Homo sapiens: one gene and its partner. The protein of the gene in region 1 purifies or fractionates together with the protein of each later gene. This does not show direct contact. Each region holds a gene or a part of one and is shown on either strand. Other genes may lie near its edges.

What was found. The genes of interacting proteins can lie anywhere in the genome.
Region 2: the proteins of COQ7 (region 1) and NIPSNAP2 purify together in Homo sapiens (co-immunoprecipitation; one large-scale study listed by IntAct). This does not show direct contact.

The regions. Positions count from the first base shown.
Region 1 is NC_000016.10:19,070,614-19,074,113, forward strand, and holds part of COQ7 (NADPH-dependent 3-demethoxyubiquinone 3-hydroxylase, mitochondrial), read left to right. Parts: intron 1-1,314; coding exon 1,315-1,493; intron 1,494-3,307; coding exon 3,308-3,422; exon of another isoform or gene 3,423-3,484; intron 3,485-3,500. UniProt on the Homo sapiens protein: Catalyzes the hydroxylation of the 5-methoxy-2-methyl-3-(all-trans-polyprenyl)benzoquinone at the C6 position and participates in the biosynthesis of ubiquinone.
Region 2 is NC_000007.14:55,971,085-55,974,584, reverse strand, and holds part of NIPSNAP2 (protein NipSnap homolog 2), read right to left. Parts: intron 1-3,500. UniProt on the Homo sapiens protein: Protein involved in mitophagy by facilitating recruitment of the autophagy machinery required for clearance of damaged mitochondria.

The DNA.
Region 1 (3,500 bases):
GTCCTAGCTACTCTGGAGTCCTAGCTGCTCTAGAGGCTGAAAAAGGAGAATTGCCTGAGTCTGAAAGGTGGAGTTTGCGGTGAGCCAAGATCGCACCTCTGTCTCCAGCCTGGGCGATACAGTCAGAGTCTGTCTCAAAAAAAAAAAAAAGTGATACCAGTGCAGATCGAAGCTACCATTACAAACTAAATGACCCTTAGGTCACTATTTTCCGTATCTGCAAAATGAGGTGAATACACCTTACACACCTAAGAATGCTGCAAAACTCCTCTCTGGCAGGGAAAAAAACCTTTTGAGTTACTCTAATATAAGGCTCAGAGAATATAATTAAGGTGTTAAGGTTAGGAGATTTATTTTTAAAGATAAAATATAATCTGTCATGAAGAATTTACATTTTGAAGATGAGAGTTCATTTGAATTGATTTTGGAGCATAATGAAGTGAAATCTAGGCTCCAAGGCTAGTCTCAAAATCGAATGCCCAACGGTGTGGGGTTTTTAATTTTTTTTTCTGTTTTTGTTTGTTTGTTTGTTTTTGTTTTTAGACAGAGTCTCACTCTGTTGCCCAGGCTGGAGTGCAGTGGCACGATCTTGGCTCACGGCAATCTCTGCCTCCCGGTTTCAAGCTATTCTCCTGCCTCAGCCTCCCGAGGAGGTGGGATTAAAGGCACACGCCAACACACCCAGCTAAATTTTGTATTTTTGGTAGAGATGGGGTTTCACCATGTTGGCGAGGCTGGTCTCAAACTCCTGACCTCAGGTGATCCATTCTCCTTGGCTTCCCAAAGTGTTAGGATTACAGGCATGAGCCACCGCGCCCGGACAGGTGTGGATTTTAAGAGAACTTAGTCTGTGGTTCTCAGCCTTGGCTGAAGAGAAGACTTATGCACAGAGCTTCTAAACAATATCAGTTCAGAGAGCCCCCTCCCAGAGATTGACTGGGGAAGAGCACGGTGTTTTTGAAAGCTCTGTATGGGCCTCTCCTGTACAGCCTGGGCTGGGGCGAAGTGGGCCAGAGGGTTGGTGAACTGGAGAACCATGCTCATCTAGAAGCGGTTGCCATGTTAACTGCCTGGTAAGAAGGTAGGCTCAGCATTTCCAGATCTTCATACACTTAAAGTGAAACCAGAAATCCAGATCTTTAGGTAAAATCCTCTGTTTTAACACTGTAGGTTAAACAGAGTCCGTTTATGGGCACGCCTGGCCCATGGGGAACTGATTTGTGACCTCCATCCCAAAGTGCCCTTTCTGCTGTCTGTAAAAGGAACATCTGGATTTTACCTGATCATAACGAAGAATAAACACTTGCATTTCAGCTTATGGAAGAAGAACCAGTGTCAGATTTCGCAGTTCAGGAATGACTTTAGACAATATCAGTCGGGCAGCTGTGGATCGAATAATCCGGGTGGATCATGCAGGCGAATATGGAGCAAACCGCATCTATGCCGGGCAGATGGCTGTCCTGGGTCGGACCAGCGTCGGGCCAGTCATTCAGGTGGGTGCTTCTTCATCTCCCTCACCCTGGTCTACTGAATGGGCAGATCCAAAGGACTTCAAGTAATGAATCATGGGAGGTCAAGCGTTCCCTAGGGAGATGCCATTGTCTCCAGGAGAGCGAAGGTTGGTTCTTGGTGGAGATGGGGAGCAAAAAGCATATTGTTCTTTTTATGGATAAAGCACAGAGAGACATCTAGTACATAGACAGGTATGCGGTATATCTTTGGTATCAGTACTCCATGGCGGGGGCAGGCAGTAATGAAAAAAGGTTAAGAATCGCTCAGCACAGCAGTCAACTGTGCTGAAATGTTGCAGCCCTGCCCCCTACCGTGCCAGAGAGGTATTGTATCCCAAGAGGCTATGGGAGGACCTGAAATTTGTAGTTACACAGACCTGGTTCACATTTTGGCTCTCTCCCACCTCCTACCTGTGCGACCTTGAGGATGGCACAGGACTTCTCTGGGTTTCCATTTCCGTATCTGCAAAATGGCCTCATAATGGCCTGGGTTTGGGTAAGGAACCGGGTCTGGCCCATAAAGGTCAAGTTAGTACAAGTTAAATGGCCTGCCCTGAACCCTTGGGCAAGCTACTTAGCCTCTCTGTGCTTCAGTTTGTTGTGTATACTGGCGCAGTCATAGTGTGTCCTTCACAGGGATTGTGTGGATTGAATGAATTGCTTGCATGAAGCTATTTGATGGCCCCTGGCACTTAGGACGTGCCATCTAAGTGTTAGCTGCAGCTAGCATTCTCCCTTTTTCCTCTGATGTAAATAATATTCAGGGCCGGGTGTGGTGGCTCACGCCTGTAATCCCAGCACTTTGGGAGGCCGAGGCCAATGGATCGCTTGAGCCCAGGAGTTTGAGACCAGCTTGGGCAATGTGATGAGACTCCGTCTCTACGAAAAATACAAAAATTAGCTGGGTGCAATGGCTCACACCTGTAATCCCAGCACTTTGGGAAGCTGTGGCGGGTGGATCACCTGAGGTTAGGAGTTTGAGATCAGCCTGGCCAACAAGGCAAAACCCTGTCTCTACTAAAAATACAAAACAAATCAGCCAGGCATGGTGGTGCATGCCTGTAGTCCCAGCTGCTTGGGAGGCTGAGGCAAGAGAATCACTTGAACCTGGGAGGCAGAGGTTGCAGGGAGCTGAGATCGCACCACTGCACTCCAGCCTGGGCAACAGAGTGAGACTCCGTCTCAAAAAAACAAAAAAAACCGCACACACACCACAAAATTAGCCAGGTGTAGTGGCATGTGACTGTAATCCCAGCTAATTTGAGAGGCCGAGGTGGGAGGATCGCTTGATCCTGGAGGTTGAGGCTGCGGTGAGCCATGAGCTTGCTACTGCACTACAGTCTGGGTGACAGAGTGAGACCCTGTCTGGAAACAAACAAACCACAACAACAACAAGATGATGCTATTCTAGTAATCTGGAAGGAAATTACACAACAGCCAATGTTCTGCCTTCCTGATTTTGAAATGGGTTAAACATGTCATTTCTTATGTGTGTAGACCCTTGTCATTTACTGGGCACATTGTGGGCCTGAGAGACTTCTGCTGCAACCATGGCTCATGGCAGTCTTAACTGGAATTGAGATAATAGACTGTTTTGTATTCTTGGTGCTCTCTTCTCTTTGTCACAGATTCCTTTAGTCTGATGTTTTACTGTTTCCATTGACGTTTTGAGGGGAATGGGGGAGACAGCAGTTCCATCATTTTCTCCGTTTCTGCTTTGCTCCCTGTATGCCGCTTGGATGAGTGGGAGGCCTCTATGGAATGCTTGCATGTCTTTATTTTTATGTTTCTTGCAGAAAATGTGGGATCAAGAAAAGGACCATTTGAAAAAGTTCAATGAGTTGATGGTTACGTTCAGGGTCCGGCCAACAGTTCTGATGCCCTTGTGGAACGTGCTGGGGTTTGCACTGGGTACGTGTCTCTCTAGAAGAGCTTATGCAAGCTTGGGGATCTAGGATGATTAAATCCTTCAGGTATCATGTTCACAAT
Region 2 (3,500 bases), on another chromosome or scaffold:
GAGCCACTGCGCCCAGCCTTCTACAATAGTATTTCTAATCTGCTTGGTAGACTTGCTTAAGCACCCAGATACCACCAGGTAAACATTAAGAGGAAAAGAAAGAGCAACTCCAGGTATTAAAAAGGGGGACCAGGAATTTAAACAAGGGACAAGAAAAACTCTCATGAGAGCAAATTCCCCAGTACTTCATGAAATGAACACATGGATTTCATACTACAATAATAGAAATTCCTATTCTTATGCAGCAACGGTATTTTAGAAGTAGGGCTCTAAATTTCACATGATACTGGCAGCCTTTTTCTTTCTTTCTTTCTTTCTTTTTTTTTGCTTAAAAAATCAGTTTGCTGCTTTATTTATTTATTTTTGAGGCAGGGTCTCATTGCACTTGCTGGAGTGCAGTAGTGCAATCTCGGCTCACTGCAACCTCTGCCTCCCAGGTTCCAGCAATTCTCCCACCTCAGCCTCCTGACTATCTGGGACTACAGGTGCATGCCACCACATCCGGCTAATCTTTGTATTTTTAGTAGGGACAGGGTTTCATCATGTTGGCCAGGTTGGTCTCGAATTCCTGGCCTTAAGTGATCCGCCAGCCTCAGCCTCCCAGAGTGCTGAGATTGCAAGGGTGAGCTGCCGCACTCAGCCTAGTTTGCTGCTTTCTTGAACAAACATTACAGAGCAATCTTCTCCCCAATATGATGTTCTTTTAATTTAAAAACCAATTCATAGGATATTGTCTCAAATAGGTAGAAACCAGATATAAAGATTTTTGAATGATGTGAACTTACAAATACAAATATATTGGCCGGGAGTGGTGGCTCACGCTTCTAAATCCCAGCTCTCTGGGAGGCCGAGGCAGGTGGATCACCTGAGGTCAGGAGTTCAAGACCAGCCTGGCCAACATGGTGAAATCTTGTCTCTACTAACACTACAAAAAAAAAAAAAAATAGCTGGGTGTGGTGGCACACGCCTGTGATCCCAGCTACTCAGGAGGCTGAGGTAGGAGAATCGCTTGAACCCAGGAGGTGGAGATTGCAGTGAGCCAAGTCGTGCCACTGCACTCCAGCCTGGGCTACACAGCAAGACTCAATCTCAAAAAAAGTAATAATAATAAAATAAAATAAAATAAATTAAAAATAAAATGTGCTCTATAAATAATTATAAAGAAATATAAAAGCACGTTTTCACATCCTTCAAAGATTAAAAAGAAGCAAACTCACTTTAAACAAGCAAAATAACAATACCAGTAAATGCAATTTTTCTTGAAAGATAAAAACATATAGTATTAAGTGGCATTTGCAGATGTAAGTTGAAGATGCTTCCAATTTGTGTTTACTATATATAAAAATTCCTAAAAATTAAGAAAGCATTAATGGTGGTTTCCCTGAGAAAATGGTTTAAAGGGATAGAGGGGAAAGACACACAGCTTTCTCCATATAATGTCTATATTGTGCTTTTCTCTTCTGTATTTTTTTTTTCTTTGAGACAGGGTCTCACTTTGTCACTCAGGCTGGAGTGCAGTGGCGTGATCTTGGCTCACTGTAGCCTCGACCTCCCGGGTTCAAGCTATCCTCCTGTCTCAACCCCTCCCAAGTAGCTGGGACTACAGGTGCCCAGCACCACATCCAACTAATTTTTGTATTTTTTTGTAGAGACAGGGTTTCACCATGCTGCCCAGGTTGGTCTTGAATTTCTGAGCTCAAGTGACCTGCCTGCCTCAGCTTCCCAAAGTCCTGGGATTATAGGCGTGAACCACCACACCCAGCCATATTCCAATAAAAATGAAAGCACATTTTGTCAATTAGTTTGAAGTGTTTTACGTACACTACATTTAGGGATATCTGTTTAATAATATCATGGGCTGGGCACAGTGGCTCATGCTTGTAATCCCAGCACTTTGGGAGGCCAAGGAGGCGGGTGGATCACCTGAGGTCGGGAAACCAGACTGACCAACATGCAGAAACCCCGTCTCTACTAAAAATATAAAATTAGCCAGGCATGGTGGCGCATGCCTGTAATCCCAGCTACTCAGGAGGCTGAGGCAGGAGAATCGCTTGAACCCGGGAGGTGCAGGGTGTAGTGGGCCGAGATCACGCCACTACACTCCAGCCTGGGCAACAAGAGTGAAACTCTGTCTCAAAAAAAAAAAAAAAGAAAAAGAAAAAAGAAACTTACGCATTACTTTAAGGCAACCATATAAAATTAGTGATACACAAAGTAGAAAGTTTTAAGATTTGTTTATGGGACTATGTAATTTCTGTATGTTCTTTTTTTTTTTTGAGACAGAGTCTTGCTCTGTTGCCCAGGCTGGAGGGCAATAGTGGCACAATCTCAGCTCACTGCAACCTCCGCCTCCTGGGTTCAAGTGATTCTCCTGCCTCAGCCTCCTAAGCAGTTGAGACTAGCGGCACCCACCACCACACCCATCTAATTTTTGTATTTTTAGTAGAGGTGGGTTTTCACCATGTTGGCCAGGCTGGTCTTGAACCCCTGACCTCAGGTGATCCACCTGCCTCGGCCTCCCAAAGTGCTGGAATTATAGGTGTGAGCCACTGTGCCCAGCCAATTTCTGTGTTTATTTTAGATTTTAAGTTCATTAAACAGAAATTGTGTCTACAATTTTTTTTGTTAAATAAATTGTAAAAGCTTAGGAATAACAATTATGAACAATTAAGAAAGGGATATAATAAAAAGTGTCTAAAAATACTGACTAGGGAGTTTCACTTAAAATAAGAAATACTAAAGCAATGACTACTAATAGTTTTATGTATATCCTTCCAGAAATACAGAGGCAAACATATATTATGTATATTTATAGACAGATAATATTTTCACTGATAAAGGATGCCTTTGAAATAAAAATCACCCCAACTGAGCATTTATTTCATATCTCAGAAACACCAAAGTCAGCCTGGGCAGCATAGGAAGACCCTGTCTCTACAAAAAAAAATAAAAAGAGTAGCTGGGCATGGTGGCTCGTGCTTATGGTCCTAGCTACCCAGGAACCTGAGGCAGGAGGATCGCTTGAGCCCACAAGTTCAATGCTGTAGTGAGCTATGATCATGCACTGTACTCCAGCCCGGGCAACAGAGCAAGACCACCTCTAAAACAAACAAACAAATAATAATACCAAAGGGATTCCCCTTTGGGTGGGTACAATGAGGTAAGGGATGTGACAATGCTAGTAATCGAAAAATGCAGAGCAGGGGGTGAGACTAAATCAACACAGCACACACAAAAGAACCTGAGTGGCATTTGCTTGTGAACTTGGGCAGCAATCGTCTTGACAAATGAAAAACAAGCCGGCCAGTACTACCCCCAACCGTCAAACTGAAATCTTTGAGTGTCAGGTGACCAAAGCTGCCTAACATGCCCAACCTATCTAGTCATTCGAGTCGCAGCTATGCCAACGGCTGCCCAAATGATAAGATCTGGCTTGGGCCTGGGTTCTTAACTGACAGTGACAATCGCCAAGATGGTAGGGGGCACTTTCCAGAGGATAA